Linked DNA regions of Homo sapiens. The protein of the gene in region 3 interacts with the protein of the main gene of each other region in a pairwise test. Each region holds a gene or a part of one and is shown on either strand. Other genes may lie near its edges.

Region 1 (4,442 bases), on a different chromosome or scaffold from region 3:
ACCACCTTGCAATCATGGGGGTTAACCCAGAGCAAGTGGGACCGAGAAACTGGTCCTGGATCACACTGTTGGAGCCCCTGAAACCAGCCAGCCTTGCGGCTAGTTTGCCTCTGGATGATTTTAAGACATATGAGTTAATAAATTTCCTTTACTGCTTAAGACAGATTGGGTATGATTTTCTATCCCTTGTAAGAGAAGTCCTAACTGATGCAGATCATGGCTGTTCAAAGAATAGGCCCCCTGGAGGGCCTCTGTCCAGTTGTAGAGAACCAAGCCTCACAAAGATGGGATCCTTTTTTTAAGGACCCTGAGACTAACTTAATAAAAATAACCAGCCTCCAGCAGTCAACATTTTACAAGTGCCTACCAAGGAAAGAGTAGCAGATAGGAGTTGGACTTGGTATCATTTCAGGTGACTTACAGCCTGGAGATGCTCTTCCAAGCTGTAGAGGTGTTTATGCATTTAGGAGGCCCAGACCATCACTTAAAATGAAGTGATGATGTAACCATGGCAACGTGAGCTGAGGACTCAGCTACAAGGAGAGGAAGAGGAGGTGGTTTGAGTTGAGGGGAGCTCTGTGCCACTTTCATATCTGTGCCCAATGATGGGCATCCTGTCCACACCACGCCTTCCTGTCTGCACCACCACAGGTGATGGCTTTGTTTTCCAGCACCAATCCGGTGCCTAAGAGCAGGGCCTCTACTCCATCTCTCTGCAGACTTCAGGGAGAAGCACTGGAGTGACAAAAGTAAACATCGGAGGCTTCACTTGGGTGACACAGATCAAAGACTTTTCCAAAAAAAGAATGCTGCAAATGATGTTTAAAGTCATGATTATATTTAATATTATTAGGGTGGTGCAAAAGCAATTGTGGTTTTTGCCATTACTGTCTACGGCAAAAACCGCAATTACTTTTGCACCAACCAATATAAATTGTAACAGATTTGAGACAAAATATAAAATTTTTCAAATTGAGCAGAATTTATCAACCCAGAATCTATAATGTATGAAATAAATTAATAGAGAACCCAACAGATCATGTTATGTTGTAAATATAACATCTATCTTTAGGTTAAAGTAACATAGCAAAAATATATATTTATGGGTGCAAGACACATACATAATTTGTACCAATCTCACAGAACTAATTCAATTCAAAACAACAAAAAACTTACTCTATTATCTAATGGATGCAATAAAAATTAACCATTTGAAGATAAGTTCTCTTGCACTTCCCCTACTTACGTTTTTCCTGGCACCTGCTATACTGTGTATGTATTTCTTCACCGCTTTACTGCCTGACTCCCCTACTAGATCATAAGTTCCAAGAGGGCAAGCCCTCTGAAACACTGCTATGTCTCCAGCACCTAGAACTTGGCATGTAGTAGGCATCCAATACATAAGTGTTAAATGAGTGAATTTAAAACACGTACATGCCAGGAATGGTGGCTCAGGCCTGTAATCCCAGCACTTTGGGAGGCCGAGGCGGGGGATGGCCTGAGGTCAGGAGTTCCAGACCAGCCTGGCTAATATGGTGAAACCCCGACTCTACTAAAAATACAAAAATTAGCTCTTCCTTTCTCTGCCATTGTGGTGTGTGCTTGACTCTGCTTCTTGCCATGTCTTCTCATAAGACTTCCAGGATTAAGTGATTCCTGACCGAGAAATTAAAACAAAATCGCCCCACTCCCCAGTGGATTCAGATGAAAACTGGTAATAAAATCAGGTACAACTCCAAAAGGAGACATTGAAGAAGAACCAAGCTAGCCCTATAAGGAATTGCACATGAGAGGGCACACATATTTATGCTGTCTGAAGGTCACAGTCATGTTACCACATCAAGCTGAAAATGTCACCGCTCTCTGGAGAATTGTACATGTTTTATTGGGAATATATTTTTTCTTTCTGAATCTGTTATGAATGCATTGGTTGGCTGGGTTCAGTAATAAATATGTGAGACCTTTCATTAAAAAAAAATACAAAAATTAGCTGGGCATGGTGGCGCACACCTGTAGTACCAGCTACTCTGGAGGCTGAGGCGGGAGAATTGCTTCAACCCAGAAGGCGGAGGTTGCAGTGAGCTGAGATCGCGCCACTGCACTCCAGCCTGTGTGACAGAGTGAGACTTTGTCTCAAAAAACAAACAAAACATGCACACATTTAATCAATATAAAATATTATTTCTGCGAAGTCACTTCAAGCTGATACTGCATACTCCATATATGCTAAACTTCACAAGGTCTTTACCTCATACCTGACTCTCTTTCCTGACCCCCTGCGGGGTAAGTCAATGCCCTGGGGTTGCTTAGCCACTTGGTACTACCAGCTTTGGGCACCAGGTCTGTTTCAGCTCATTGGTGTATGCCCCGGCTGGCTTTTCCCATAGGGCAGAGTTGCACAAGTTGTGGGTGTGAAGCTGAGAGGTGAGCAGAGGAGGAAGGGAGGTAGACAGTCCTCATCCCAGTGTCCCTCTGAACTGCCGCGTGTGTTGCTCCAGCTTCTCAGCCTCCGCCTGGAGGTGCCCCAGCGCGGCAGGGCTGGGGTACGTGAGCACGGCATTCTTAGTGGCCAGCGCTACGTCCTTGAGCAGGCTGCAGAGGTGACTGCTGCCACGGAGGATCTCGTTGCGCACGTCCCTCTCCTGGGTCTCCATGCACAGCGTGTCCACCAGCTTCTGTCCCACCATGATGACCAGCTTGCTCTGAGTGATGATCTCCGCGGGCTGGCTGCTGCTGAGGCTGCCGTGAAATGCGCTGATGGCTTTGAAGAGCGCCCCAAAGTAGAGCCGGCAGTGTTCAGATAAGCGGGGTTTCCTCTCAGGAGTCTGTTGACTCGAAGGCTGAGGTATAAGAGGGCCAGGATTCTAAAGAAGGGAAGGAAGAAAATAGATAGGAGATTCAATCAATGGGCTGTGGCTGTCTGCCCTTTCCTGTTTTGGCTAGATTTGCAAGACTTTTTATTTTTTTTAAAAAAGCATGGTTTGGTTTGGGAAGCCCAATACTGCAACAGTTGTCTAACAAATTAATGTTTTCAAAGCACTGTAATATATAATATATACAATATTATATTGTAATACATACATATATAATTTTATTCAATCATCTCAATAAACCAACTACAAGAAACCCATTTTAAGAAACACATTGGCAATGACTATATTTATAACTTTTTTTTTTTTTTTTTTTTTTGAGACAGAGTTTTCCTTTATCTTCCAGGCTGGAGTGCAATGGTGCAATCTCAGCTTACTGCAACCTCCACCTTCTGGGTTCAAGCAATTCTCTTGCCTCAGCCTCCTGAGTAGCTGGGATTACAGGCACCTGCCACCATGCCCAATTAATTTTTGTATTTTTAGCAGAAATGGGGTTTCACCATGTTGGCCAGATTGGTTTTGAACCCCTGATCTCAAATGATCTGCCCACCTCAGCCTCCTTAAAGTGCTGGGATTACAGGGGTGAGCCACTGCACCCAGCTAAATTTGTAACTTTTAAAAATGCACAAAAACTTGATGAGATTTAAAATTTTCTCAAAGAACAGATTTAAAAACATTTAAAAAGCCAAAAATCCTCTGATTTCAGTATCAGAGATATATCAGAACTCTCAACATTTCCAGAAGCAACTAAATACCCTGACCTATCTGCCTTAATATTATTTATTTTATTTTTTGCCTTAATATTAAAATATTTATCATATTTGCTAATAAGGTTTCATCAAAATTTTACATTCATGAATTTTATTTTCTGGAAAATGGAACCAACTTCTCCCAAATCCTACATACTCTCAAAGATTTTCAGTACCTAACTTAGTGGCCACAACTCCAGGTAACAATTGAAAGGTGAAGCTCAGAGAAGAGAAAAGGCTGCCTCCGGCTATTCCATTAGCACATGAGAGATCTGGAGCTCTAGGTCTGAAACTTGCTTTCTTTCCATTAAATTTCACACGCTCGCATTTACCTATTATCTCAAAATTCATAGCCCGGAAGCATTCAGACAGATAGGGCATAAAACTGATTTTTTCAGAAGGGGGTTATGTCTCCTAGTAGGGTTGGAGGGGAAGTTAGACAAGGAAGAGGAAGGCATACTTCGAAGAAGCACCTTCATTATTAGAATTGCATATTTGGAAAATGAAAACAATGATTGTCTTTGTCATAGAAAGTGAAGGAAAGATTGAAATGTCAGTTCACATGGACTCTTGGAAGCAGGGAGTATAAGAATGAAGCAGGTTGAGTGCAGTGACCCACACCTGTAATCCCAGCACTTTGGGAGGCCGAGGCAGGAGGATCGCTTAACCCTAGGAGTTTGAGACTAGCCTTGGCAACATACGAAACTCTGTCTCTACCAAAAACAAAACAAAACAAAAATTAGCCAGGTATGGCGGTGCGGGCCTGTAGTCCCAGCTACTTGGGAGGCTGAGGTGGGAGAATCGATTGAACCTGGGTGGTGGA
Region 2 (7,819 bases), on a different chromosome or scaffold from region 3:
ACAGAAATTTTGTTTTCTTTATAGATATATTTGGTGACACAAAAGCATTTTTTAAAAGCCTGAACATGGCAACAGGGCTACTAACAGGGACAAAGGTCTATTCTAGTCACAGATTACTTTCTAATTACAGCATTGGATTCTATGCACGAGTCAATAGTCAATACTGAAGTTTAGAACAGTGCGTTATTTTAAAAGAAAACATTAAAGTGCCATTTAATAAGTACTTTATTGATATTATATCACACAGCACTTTACAGTATACTCAAAGATAGCCTAAATTATGAATTAAACATGCAAATATTTTCTTTTCCAAAATGTGGACAAAATGTCTTTTAGAGTGCTTTTGAACACTAGCCTTAGCTACTAAGCATTCATGGGTTTGATCTTTCTTGCGACATGACTTTAAGTAAGTTAACAAAAAATGTAGCTGTAGACAGTAATTGTTTGATAAATATGAACAGTTTTAAAATGGCACTGAATTTACATCTTTAATCATTTTAATAGGCCATCCACAGCCTCTCTTGTGTCTCTAATTCTCAACCTCCGAGTCTTAAAGGCTGTAAAGGCTCAGAAAGTGCCAGCTCATGTGGGTCTCTGTAAGTGTCTATGTCTTCATAGATGTAAATATGTGCTGTATACACACACATACACACACACATAAATATACTTTAGAATCAACAGATGTGCATTGTCAGATACAAGGTTGATTCTGGCATCTGGATAACCAAGAAAGCTGCTTTTAGGTGTCTGGACAACTTTGTAGAAATGGTTGACGTAGAACAGTATAGAATGTCTTAACCTCTCCAGGACTGCTCCAGGTAACTGACATTTTGTTTATCAATACTCTGGTTCTGACTAAAGTGAATTTTGACATGGACATGTCATGTCATGTCATACCCACACAAGGGTCTAGGTCTATGCTAAGCCTTTGCTCTCTAAAGCATTCCACCTTGAGAGACGTTTTCACTCTGTAATGTCTGGCACAACTTTTGTAAAAATATTAGCTGTGAAATTTTTCTGTGATCGCTTTTTTTTTTCTCCTCAGTAAGCATAATATTTATCCTTCTAAAAAAGTATCCAAAGCTCCTTAGGATGGTTCACCTTTCTCTTTCTCTCTAGTCCTGGTGTTACTTTGCATCCAACACTTTTTCCTCTCAATAATACAGGTGCTTCCACTGGAAGACCACATTTCAGCAAGGACTGGCTCTGAATGACACCTGGATTCTATGGCCTTTCCCTCCACTTTGGGAAGCTCTTTAGTTAGACAGGTACTGTAGGCGGCAGGAGAAAAAAAGCTAATTATTACTTGTTGGAGTCTTGTCTCAGGCATGCTGTGGGGCTGTGCAAGATTCGCTGCTCTGCTGCTGTTGTCATTTTGATGCTACAATTACAGAGAGGCGGTTCAGCACCCAGCCGATCGGTGTGGCTGCCAAACACATTTGAGCATGACAAGATAAATTTGTTAGACACCAGCACAGGGTGGGTGAGAAGACATCCTGCTGACTTTATAAAGTGATGTGGGGCAGGGTTGTCGAGGTAAGTGATGATTGTCAAGTTTGCCAGAGATGATAGATAACTCCTTTGGCAGAACACCTAGGTCATTCCTTTTAAAGTCAGGTAGCTAAGAGGCTGTTTGGTTTCTGCAGCGCTGGCTACCTACTTGGGGAACATGGTTGCTCACAAAACATTCAGTACTTGGGCAAACTCTGGGTGCCATGGTGGCCACTGCTGTCTCCGGGAGTGCCATGTCCACAAAACTCAGTCATCCAGACTTGCTTTTGGGAGCAGAAGCCAGAGGATGACAGGTGCCAACAGACAGGCAGGGATCAGGTTATCTTTGGCTTCTTCTTTCTGTCTTTCTCCCCCTCAACTGTGAATGCTTTTGGAGCCTCTGCAGTCAAGACAGAGCTTTTACTGAGACAGCAGTTGCCATTTTCAGCTGATAGAAACTCAGGGGATAGAAGGCCTTCCCTTTGAGCCGCAGGTATGGCACACACAACTCTGCAGCTCTGGGCAAGTGCCTTGGGATGCCCTTGTCACTAGTATGGCTCTGTCCTGCTAATGCCAGTCTGTCAATACTTGATTGTTCATTCTTTCTCTTTGCCTCTCACCGAAAAGCACTCGGTGAGAGGAAATGAACTGATATTCAAAAAGACAGTGTGGTCTGACATAAGAAAACACATATTGGCCGTATAAATACTTCAGACATTAAGCTAAAGACTGGCTCCAATTCTAGGACACCAAGGCAGGCCACAATGCACAGGGTCCATCCCTATATATGTTTATTTTGAAAAACAGGAGAAAAGATCTTCTGTCTTGAGCAAGTCAGGGTTTTACTTGCCTGGGGGCAGGGATTTGAAACCAGCTGTCTTCTCCTGGCATGGCATTCTTTTTTTTTTTTTTTTTTTTTCCTTTGAGACGGAGTCTGGCTCTGTCACCCAGGCTGGAGTGCAGGGGCGTGATCTTGGCTCACTGCAATCTCTGCCTCCTGGGTTCATGCCATTCTCCTGCCTCAGCCTCCAGAGTAGCTGGGACTACAGGCGCCCGCCACCACACCCGGCTAATTTTTTGTATTTTTAGTAGAGACGGGGTTTCACCGTCGTAGCCAGGATGGTCTCAATCTCCTGACCTCGTGATCCGCCCGCCTCGGCCTCCCAAAGTGCTGGGATTATAGGCGTGAGCCACTGCACCCGGCCATGGCATTCTTTAGCTACGAAATTTTGTTAGTAACCTGAAGGAAGAGTGAGAGGCTGACCTTAATACCCCTAAAAGATTCAGGCTATGGCTAAGTGATCCCTGGGTCTTACAAAGGAAACTGGAGGCTACTGGGAAAGCTCAGGGATCCTGGGCCATGGTCTTCCACTCTGATAACCAATTCATTCTCCTCATCTGCCCTAAAGTTTCCTGTTCACACAGAGAGAGTCAGAGGTAGGGGGCATGGATAGGGGAGAGAGTAAAATCTTTAGTCTTCAAGTTCCTTCCTACTCATTGGCTCATATTCTGAAGTTTATCCAGTTTTGTAGCTAATAGGAAGGAGGGGAGCCTGGCTGGGCAAAGGGAAACAGAGAAGCCATCTGTCAAGGGCACCGCACAGCCACAGGGAAGCTGGGGAGGGGGTACCTGAAAGATCCCATTGGCAGCAGCTCATGGGCACTGCACAGACACACGGAAGCTAGGGAGGGAGTTACCTAAAAGATCCCATTGGCAGCAGCTCTGTTTCTCCCGATTTCAAATCAGAGCCAACTCAAGAGGGAGGGACATGCTTCCAAGCAGTGAAGCTGGGGCCAAATGTCTACAGGGATGCTTCGTGAGGCACCCCCAAAGCAAGGATCTTGGCCTTCTGTTCCTCCACATGAGCTCCAGGTAAGTTTATGATGGGACAGATTACAACTTCAAACATCAAATGTGGTCGGCCGCAGCGGCTCACACCTGGAATCCCAGCACTTTGGGGGTCTGAAGTGGGCAGATCACTTGAGGTCAGGAGTTCGAGATCAGCCTGGCAAACATGGCAAAACCCCATCTTTACTAAAAATACAAAAAACTAGCTGGGTGTGATGGCTCATGCCTGTAGTCCCAGCTACTTGGGAGGCTGAGACAGGAGAATCACTTGAACCTGGGAGGTGGAGGTTGCAGTGAGCCAAGATTGCGCCACTGCACTCCAGCCTGGGCCACAGAGTGAGACTCCATCTCAAAAAACAAACAAAAACACAAATAAAAAACCTCATCAAATGTGTTAAAAGCATGATGTTGGTCTCTCTTTGAGAAGCGTAATAGTATGTGAATGCACATCCCCTGAGGCCTCCATTTCCCAAGGTCTTCTTGTCCTCAGGTTCACAGATCTAACCTACTAGTATACTCCCTTTCTTCTCGAGTTTTCCCCAGTGGCTTTCTTGAGTTCTGTCTTGGTCCTGTCCATTCTTAATTCTCATTCCCTGATTCAATGGTAGTGTCTCGCTTGCTCCTGGGTGAGTTCCCGGAAAAGAGCTGTATAATCCTTGAGCTGATAAACTGAGTAGTGAATCACCATGACAAACCCCTGTTAACTTTAAAACCACCTGTAAAGCTATGACGGCACAATCTATACCCCTCCTGGAGTCTTCCTCTTCTTTTGGGATCACGGGAATTGGAGGTGAAAGGGAAGAGTTTTAAAATGTTTAGGAGAAGGGAAAGCAGCAGCACATTGAGAACTGAACATTCTAAGAAGCTGGTTCTTTAAGAACTTACAGACGCACACAAAATTTGAAAACTAGCTTGTCCACATTTCTAAAGCCTCAGAAGATGTGGAGAAAAAGAAGTAAAGAGCACAGCAACTGACTCATCTCTTTCTGGCCTGATATCTTGGGGGTACCAAGAAATACACCTGAGAAGAAAGACAAAAACTCGAATGCCTGACCCCACTTATTTAAATCCTGAGCTTCATCTTACTACTAAGTAGGCATTCTTTGAAAAACTCATTGCCTGGAGATGCTCTTCCCATCTCCAAATCCAAAGCCCAAGGGATGCTTAAAAACACATAAAGACTGAACACCACTGATGTGTCGTGCCCACCAACAGGACAGCAGAGAGCAAGGCCATAGAAATGTCTTCTCTTTCCTTCAGGCCGAAGCGGGGACAGTGACCTTGACTCTCTTCAGCTTTGCCTCCCCTCTCTCCCTCTTAAACATACTTCTTCAGCAATCAAAGCCTAAGTGTGTGAGCAACTAACTTAAAGAATATCAAATATAAAACTTTGCCATATAGTATTTCAAATCACTCTATTTACAAGTTTATCTTTTCAAAAAAAAAAAAGTAAAAGATACAGTAATTCAACACAATTCAAGTTTTTCTTTTCTTCTTTAAAGTTCCCTAACAAGGAATTCCAGAAACAGGAAACACTCTGAAGCAACGCTGCCATCCAAGGGGCTCCTGGGGAGCTTGACGGTCCATCGGTTTGTAGTTTGTCTAGAGTCACCCTTGCAATGACATTCACATGTGGAAGATACGGATAACTCTGTTGTTTGCAGGCCAAGTGAATTTGAAATCTCCAGGTAGTACTTCCCCATCCAAGACAGTCTTCCACAAGATCCAGCCTCTTTTCACCAGCAAATTCCCTTTTTCAGAGGGTACTCATCCCACCCTCCAACCTTGGGTTTCTTCCTGAATCACAATGGCCTATATTAGTCTCAAGCCTTGAAAGACTGAGAAATAATTCCCTTTTTCAGAGTGGCAGTGAACATAGATGTGCTTTTAAACTATAGGCCATACGGTTAGCCTAGGAATTAACCTTGAAAACCACCACAGCACCAGTGTTCAGCAGCCCAGAGTAGGGCAAGGGGGCTGGCCAGTGGTGGGTTAGAGGCAGGCAAGGGTGGGAGCAGAGATGGGTGAATGGGAGGACATGGGGAAACCAGTCAGATGGCATCACCCATTGGGAGGCAGCATCTTACCCTTTAAAAAACAAACATCAGTTGCATGGAGGAACAGAAATATTAAGACTATGTAATTTAATCTCAAGAGGTTACTAGGGTGTGCTCCAAATATATTCCGATGCTGCTGAAATTAATCAGAAAGGGAACAGTTCCCAGCTACTATCCCATCTGCCTCAAGTAGACCACCCTAATTCCTTGATCCTGTGCTTCAAGTTGTTAGAAAACCATTCAAAAAAAGTGTACCAAAAAGGGGAGAAAAAAAATGTGTCATGCAAAGAGGATGTGTTATTTTATTTTTTTGGTTTGGTTTTAGAGTAGGTTGGGTTGCCGTGGTTACTAGGCGATGGATGGCAGCCCTTGGTGGCAGAGAGGTTCCTAGCCTGGGAGGGAGAAACGCAGGGTGTGTGTGTTCCCGTGCATGAGAAGACTGGATTGTATCTCACTGATGACAGGCCAACGGCTGCTTTAGAGATGGTGAGAGATTGGATCTTATATAAACAGTGTTTTAACCCTCTTCATCCTGCATGCAAACAGATCCAGCTGCCTGTAGCACTTTAAGTCTCAAGTACTGAGAGGTGGGGTAGAGAGAGTGCCTATTGTAAACAAAAGCAATGGATCCAGCCTGGATCTCAGCGCCAATTTCTTCACCCAGCCCCAGCAGGCTTAGCTACACAGTGTGCTCTCAGGGACTATTTCTATCTGACTTCCTCTTTCTGAAGGTTGGGCGTTTGGACCGTTGAAACAAAATGAGTGCCCCCTATTCAGGGTACTCATGAGAAAACGGCTTTGCAAGTCTTCCTCTTAGTTATCAAATGCTCTCCTCTGCTGATTGACTTCTTTTCTTGCAGTACTGATGCATGTTGGCTGAGATGATCATGGAGATGAGTGACACCAGAGCTCACAGAAACATTCATGTTGACAGGTAGCAACAGAGTCAGTCACGCTGCATTTCTCAGTGGCAAAGAGAAATGGCCTCGACACTGGAATCAGCAGTTGTCATGGATACCATGTAAAGCTCAGCAGTTCTGCTGGGGCCCACGGTTAGAGGAACTCCACGTAATTCTCAGGGATGAGGCCAGTCTTTCCGTTCAGAGTCCCCTCCAACCAGCCAGGCTCCTGAGATGGGTGAACTGTACAGGAAGGGGAGAGAAAGCGAGAAGAGATGGCATTACAGATAGAGCAGGCGGCAGATGTGTGTGTGGGGTGTGTGTGTGTGTGTGTGTGTGTGTGTGTGTGTGTGTATGAAGGAAGCTTGGACAATGAGTACAATCACTTATTAAGTTACATCATTCTAGAAGTTTAAACCAAAGGTTCTGAACCTTTTGTGGAATATAAGCCTTCTGATGAAAGCTGTCCTGAACTTTCTTTACAATGAAAAAGGAAACAGACACAGACATACAAAATTTTGTGTACAATTTTAGGGGTTTCACGGATTTTCTGAAGCTCCTGGTTTAAACTACAAAGAAGTGACAGATTCCTACTCTTGTTAGAGGGCAACAGTTGTCCTGGTCCATCCATACATGTATCCATCCTTCCATCCTTCCTTCCTTCCTTCCTTCCTTCCATCCATCCACCCACCCACCTGCCCAGTATCAACTATGTACTCAGTGCAGTGCCCATGGAAGACTGCTAAGAACTACTCTTTAAAGATATCCAGCTTCTAGAGGCTGGGCCTGGTGGTTCACGCCTGTAATGCCAGTACCTTGGGAGGCTGAGGCAGGTGAATTGCTTTAGCCCAGGAGTTTAAGAACAGCCTGGGCAACATGGCAAAACCTTGTCTCTACAAAATATACAAAAACTACCTAGGTTTGATGGAGCGTGTCTGTAGTCCCAGCTACTTGGAGGAGGGGGAGTGCCGAAGCGGGAGGATCGCTTGGGCTCAGCAGGTCGAGGCTGCAGTGAGCCGTGATTGCACCACTGCACTCCAGCCTGGGCGACAGAGCAAGACCCTGTCTCAATCAATCAATCCAGCTTCTTGTCATCATCTTACTTTCCTTCAAATCCTTACCCCCTGCTTCTAATTTCCTTGCAAATTTTCTGGGGTTTTTTTTTTTTTTTTTTTTGGTTGCTGTCATTTTGAATAGCCTTTGAATAGCCATTTCTCTGTTTCACTCACACCCTTTCTTAGTTTTCTTTCCTGTTCTCTAGATTTCCCCCTCCTCTATATACCAGTTTGAAAATTCTTCTCTTCCTCCCTCTATTGCCCTTTGATTTTTCAGTATCCAAAGAATATATATCTACTTTTGTGACATCATGATCCATCTCCATGGAAACCATTGTGATATTATAAAGATTATCTAAAATCCAGCTGAGTCTGCACAGTAGTCAATAGCAGGAAGGAAGAGAGAAGGAATCATGGGACTAAGAGGTGGGGGATGTTCATGCTTGTCAACTGAAGATGTACAGATCAC
Region 3 (5,871 bases):
AAAACCCTTCCCTGTGGCTAGTATAAATGTTATCCCTAGTTTTCTCAATAACCCTGTGAGGTAGCTATCAGTGGCTCTTTTTTTTTTTTTTTTTTTTTTGAGATAGAGTCTCACTCTGTCACCAAGGCTGGAGTGGAGTAGCGCAATCTCGGCTCACCGCAACCTCCAGCTTCCGGGTTCAAGTGATTCTCCTGCCTCAGCCTCCCTAGTAGCTAGGATTACAGGCACGTGCCACCATGCCCAGCTAATTTTTGTATTTTTAGTAGAGACGGGGTTTCACCATGTTGGCCAGGATGGTCTCGATCTCCTGACCTCATGATCCACCCACCTTGGCCTCCCAAAGTGCTGGGGTTACAGGTGTGAGCCACCATGCCTGGCCTGCTCCATTTTAGAGATGGGGAAACTGAGTCTCAGGCCAGGTGCAACTCGGAGGTCCACGCTCTTTTGCTGTGTGGTGTCTGCTCTGTCTTCACTCTGGTTCCTCAGTGCCTGTGCTTACATATGAGTTATCTGGCTGGTAGCTCCGATTTGGCTCAGAATCACATCTGATCACATTAATGAGCCCTGACACTCCCTGACCTCCCTGCTAGGCATTCCTGATCACGTTGTTTTCTTCGTAGCCTTTACCACTGCTGGAAATCATCTCTTATTTGTTTACCAATTTAATATCCCCCTTCCAACTAGAATTTAAACTCTTAGAGAGCAGGGATGGCGTCTGCCTTGTATCCCCAGCACCCGGAGCCGTGCCTTGTATACTGGAGATGCTCAGTAAACAGCCGTGGATGGAATGAATCTTGAAGCAGCACTGTTAGACCCTCCCAGCTCCAAGCATCCCTCCTGCATGCTCCCTCGGTGCTCTTAAGCTGGAGAAGCTGTTGGTCCCTTGCACACTTTGTGGTTATTCTTTTATTCTTGGGTGTCCCCCACCAGACCCCAGCTGACTGGGCAGGGATTGGCCCCAGGCTTGGCACAGTGCCAAGCCCACCCCAGTGCTCAGCCACCTCTTGCCAAACATCTGAATCAATGTCACAGCAACACTTGGTTTGCTCCTGTTGCATTCTCATGACAGGCTCAGCGTCAGGTACGACGTTCTTGAGGGCAAGGCCTGTCCTCCACAAAGCCCTCTGGGGCTGGGGTCTCCAGAGGCAAGCCCTCAGCTCTGGGAGACTGTCTGCCTCCGGGAGGAAACCTGGGGCAAAGGGACAGGGAGCTCCGCCACCAGCAGCAGCATGTTTTATTGCAACCAGAATCCCCGGTCACGTGGGGAAGGGATTGGAGCTAGGGATGAGGCAGGACACATCTGGTCCCTGACAGGACACTCCCCGTCCAGGATGCAAAGCCAAAGGCCCGGAACAGCCTGCTCAGTGGCTGAGCCCTGTGGCCAGCTGTGCCCTGTCTCTTCCCCTGCCCCCAGTCAGGGCATCCAACGGGGCAGAGGCAGAAGGGACGTGAAAAGGGGGGTCGGTTTCAGCAAAGCCTTCACCCAGGGACCTGAAGGAAGAAGGAGTATTGTGATGGGGTCCAGGTGCCCCAAGATGCTCAGGGCGCCTGGGCTGACTTCAGGATGTGTCCATGTGGTTATCAGAGGAAAGCGATGGGGCCTGCCCTGCCCACGTGGAGAGGGAGGGAGAGGGGAAACACGGCTCAGAAGGAGAATCACTGGCCAGCGACCATACAGGTGGGATCTTGGGACCCTGACTCCGCCGCCAGGGCCGGGTCCACACCCCACCTCCTGGCTGGGCCCCACCTGGGACCCCAGCCTAGGCAGCCTCGTGTCCTATGTGGGGATCTGCATGCTGTCCAGGTCCTGATCCATGATCTGCAGGACATCATCCAGGATGGAAGGCCCCAGGTCCACGTGCAGGGACAGCAGGGAGCTGGCATTGGACAGGAAGGGCTCCTCGGCCCCTGACTCCGGGGTCAGTCCACTGTTGGGGGAGCCAGTCTCTGGAATCCTCCAGATGTCCACACTCCCTCCCTCCTGTGGGGAAGGCTGAGGGGTCTCCAGGTGCAGGCGAGGGGGCTTGGGTGGAGCCTGGGCTGTGGGCAGGGTGAGAGCCTGGGGTCCACCGATAACCGGGAGGGAGATGGCGTTCTTGAGCAGAGGGGATGGGCCGTCCGGGAGCTCCCGCCCACACACGGTGGCGGTGCGGGTGAACTGGAAGGGGAGGTCGAAGGTGCCATCTTCTTCAGGCCCCTCCACCATGGTCCCCGGCAGGAGGTGGAACTTGCCCTGCAGGAAGGAGATGTCGCCAAACATGTCACTGCCGCCGCCACTGCCAATATGAATGGTGTGGCGGAAGTCCCCCAGCGGTGGGCTGATCATGTCCGAGGACAGCAGGTCCCGAAGCTTCTCCTTCTTGCCCTTGCGACTGCCACGCTTCAGATAGATGGGCACCTTGGTGGACATGGTGACCTCACCACCAGGCCTGGCTGTGAGGCTACGGGCCGCCTGCTGAGACCACACCTCCTCTCCAACCCTCAGCCAGAGGAAACACTCGTTCCACGGGGTGGTTTGCAGGTGCCAGAGCTCGCCAACGGGCTTCTGGCTACAGTGTGGGGGCACGAACAAAGTTGGCCCAAGGAATTAAAAAAGATTAGAGATCAATGAAGTCAGTGGGCTGAGATAACAAAAATCACGTTCTCCCCAAAGGACGGCAAACTCTTCTGAAGAATTGAAGCCAGAAAGGTAGGAACTGTGTGGGCAGCAGTGCACTTTGGTCTTGTCACCGAGGGTTACTTGTCCCCGGTCCAGGGCTGAGGAGCTGAAACACAAAGGGTGCACACCTGTCAGAGACAGCGGGACCAAGGTCAGATGCAAACATCTTTTTTATTTTTAAGATGGAGTCTCACTGTGTCACCCAGGCTGGAGTGCAGTGGCGCAATCTCAGCTCACTGCAGCCTCCACCTCCCAGGTTCAAGCAATTCTTCTGCCTCAGCCTCCTGAGTAGCTGGGACTACAGGCACGTGTCACCATGCCTGGCTAATTTTTGCATTTTTTTTTAGTAGAGACAGGGTTTCACCATGTTAGCCAGGCTGATCTTGAACTCCTGACCTCAAATGATCCGCCCGCCTCGGCCTCCCAAAATGCTGGGATCACAGGTGTGAGCCACCGTGCCTGGCCAGAAACATCTTGTTTCTGGGCCTCTTGTGGTAGCCATGGGATCCTGAGGGGGTGGGGCACTCCCCTTGCAGGGAATTGTACTGGGAGAAGCATGTCTTCACTCTAAGACCTACTGCATCTTATAGACTCACCACCAGGGCCAAGCTCCTCCCCTTACAGGTGGGAAACTGAGGTGGGAACCTGAATGACAGGTCCAAAGTCACACAGAAAGTCCTGCTCTATTCTCTTGCCCTGGGTCCCCGGCAAAGTAGGTCTCATCACCCTTATCCAGGTACTCATACCATACCCCCCACCTCCATTGCACATCACCTGTGCCCCACAATGTAAGTGCCAGATTGTGGGGGGCCTCACAAATGGCCTTGACTCCCTACTTGACCAAGGACAGAGAGCTTTGTGACCACTGTCTCTCCCGCCCAAGCCTGGCGGGGACCTGGAGCACAGCAGATGTTTGGCCAAGGGTGCTGGGTGGCTGGCACTTCCCATTTGACCCAATCATGTCCCACCTGGAGGTGGGGTCGTGTTTTCTCCTCTGCCTATTAAGAGTTCCTTATGGGTAGGGGCTGAGTCTAGGATACTTTCTGGCCTTCCTCCCTACCCTGGCATCTAAAGAGAAGGTGGAGTGGGGAGTACATATATTTTTTAGTTGAGGGGGCCTCTGCTCTGTACCTGAAATTCTTCTGCGCTCTTTGCAGACACATCTCAATTAATCAACACAACCACCCTATTATCAACCCTATTTAAAAATCAGAGGTGTTGGGGCTGGGTGCAGTGGCTCACACCTGTAATCGCAGCACTTTGGGAGGCTGAGGCAGGTGGATCACGAGGTCAGGAGATCAAGACCATCCTAGCTAACATGGTGAAACCCTGTCTCTACTAAAAGTACAAAAAATTAGCCAGGCGTGGTGGTTCATGCCTGTGGTCCCAGCTATTTGGGAGGCTGAGGCAGGAGAATCGCTTGAACCCCGGAGGTGGAGGTTACAGTGGGCCGAGATCGCCCCACGGCACTCCAGCTTCAGCTACAGAGGAAGACTCCATCAAAAAAAAAAAAAAAATCAGAGGTGTCAAAATTCAAAATTGAACCTGAGGTGAACCTACAGGTGAAAAATTTTGGAGGATTCCCACAGGGCATTGCAGAGAGAGAGAAGCAAAATGCAAAAACATAATATAGATCATCCATTTATTGAAAGCATTGACTACCTACCTGCCTCCCTGCTCTGACACATATGCATGTTGTGTAACTGCATGGGTACAGGTCTGTGTAGAATTCTGTCCTATACAAAAAAAAAAAAAAAAAAAAAAAAAAAAAAAAAAAAAAAGTCAGGTGCAGTGGCTCACTTCTGTAATCCCAGCACTTTGGGAGGCCGAGGTGGGCGGATCACCTGAGATCAGGAGTTCGAGACCAGCCTGGCCAACATGTGGAGACCCCATCTCTACTAAATATACAAAAATTAGCCAGGTGTTAGGCCGGGCGCGGTGGTTCACGCCTGTAATCCCAGCACTTTAGGAGGCCGAGGCGGGCGGATCATGAGGTCAGGAGATCGAGACCATCCTGGCTAACACGGTGAAACCCCGTCTCTACTAAAAATACAAAAAATTAGCCGGGCATGGTGGCTGGCGCCTGTAGTCCCAGCTACTCGGAAGGCTGAGGCAGGAGAATGGCGTGAACCCGGGAGGCAGAGCTTGCAGTGAGCTGAGATCGCACCACTGCACTCCAGCCTGGGGGACAGAGAGTGTCTCCATCTCAAAAAAAAAAAAAAAAAAAATTTGCCAGGTGTGGTGGCGCAGGTCTGTAATACCAGCTACTCGGGAGGCTGAGGCAGAAGAATTACTTAAACCCGGGAGGCAGAGGCTGCAGTGGGCCTAGATCGCGCCACTGCACTCCAGCCTGGGCAACAGAGAGAGTCTCCGTCTCAAAAAAAAAATTTGCCAGGTGTGGTGGCACAAGTCTGTAATACCAACTACTCAGGAGGCTGAGGCAGAAGAATTGCTTGAACCCAGGAGGCAGAGGTTGCAGTGGGCCTAGATCGTGCCACTGCACTCCAGCCTGGGTGACAGAGTGAGACTCCGCCTCAAAAAAAATAAAAAAAATTAAAAAAAAAATTTAAAACACAGAGAAAAATCTAGAAGGCCAGCCCTAGGTTGTCATATGGGCTACCTTGACTAGGGTACACAGCAGGGATGGGGGGTGGGGTCACTGATATGGGAGGAAAGGAGTCATCAATAAAAATAACCTATAATATTTTGGTCCCATGACTATGACATGATAAATGTGTGTAATATATATAAATATGAAAAGATGGAACAGTGGTTTTCTCAAAGTGGTAGAATTTCAGGTTGATGTTTCCTTTCTTGTTCAGACCTCTATGAATTCAAATTCTTACTAATAAGCAATGTATTATTTATATGCACATATTTATGTAGTCAGAAAAAAATTAAGCTATTTTTAATGTGTAAAAATAAATAGCTATGAAGGGGTGTCATACTGATTTAACAGAAAAAAGAAATGAAGCAAGCACTCCCTCTGCTTGAGGGTGGGGGACGCACATGGGACCTGATTGGTCCAGTACACATGAGCCCAGATGTAGACTCAGCATAAAAGGCAAAGAGAGAAACTTGTCCAAGGTCACCCAGTGAGTAAGGGCAGCATGGGAATTCAAGCCAGATGAGCCCACCCTCCTGTACCACTCCCTCCCCAGGCCCAGCCAGGGGCTCACCAAAGGTGGCTCTTGCCAGTTCTTTGCCTCAGT

What was found.
Region 1: the proteins of CDC42EP2 (region 3) and CASS4 interact in binary tests that used the Homo sapiens proteins (3 or more experiments, as listed by UniProt).
Region 2: the proteins of CDC42EP2 (region 3) and ARHGAP26 interact in binary tests that used the Homo sapiens proteins (3 or more experiments, as listed by UniProt).

What each region holds. Positions count from the first base shown.
Region 1 is NC_000020.11:56,456,762-56,461,203, reverse strand, and holds the end of CASS4 (cas scaffolding protein family member 4), read right to left. Parts: intron 2,865-4,442; coding exon 2,457-2,864; 3' UTR 822-2,456; downstream 1-821. UniProt on the Homo sapiens protein: Docking protein that plays a role in tyrosine kinase-based signaling related to cell adhesion and cell spreading. Regulates PTK2/FAK1 activity, focal adhesion integrity, and cell spreading.
Region 2 is NC_000005.10:143,221,077-143,228,895, reverse strand, and holds part of ARHGAP26 (rho GTPase-activating protein 26), read right to left. Parts: exon of another isoform or gene 7,473-7,819; intron 6,539-7,472; coding exon 6,450-6,538; 3' UTR 1-6,449. UniProt on the Homo sapiens protein: GTPase-activating protein for RHOA and CDC42. Facilitates mitochondrial quality control by promoting Parkin-mediated recruitment of autophagosomes to damaged mitochondria.
Region 3 is NC_000011.10:65,317,438-65,323,308, reverse strand, and holds the end of CDC42EP2 (cdc42 effector protein 2), read right to left. Parts: intron 2,788-5,871; exon of another isoform or gene 2,766-2,787; 5' UTR 2,411-2,765; coding exon 1,778-2,410; 3' UTR 892-1,777; downstream 1-891. UniProt on the Homo sapiens protein: Probably involved in the organization of the actin cytoskeleton. May act downstream of CDC42 to induce actin filament assembly leading to cell shape changes. Induces pseudopodia formation in fibroblasts in a CDC42-dependent manner.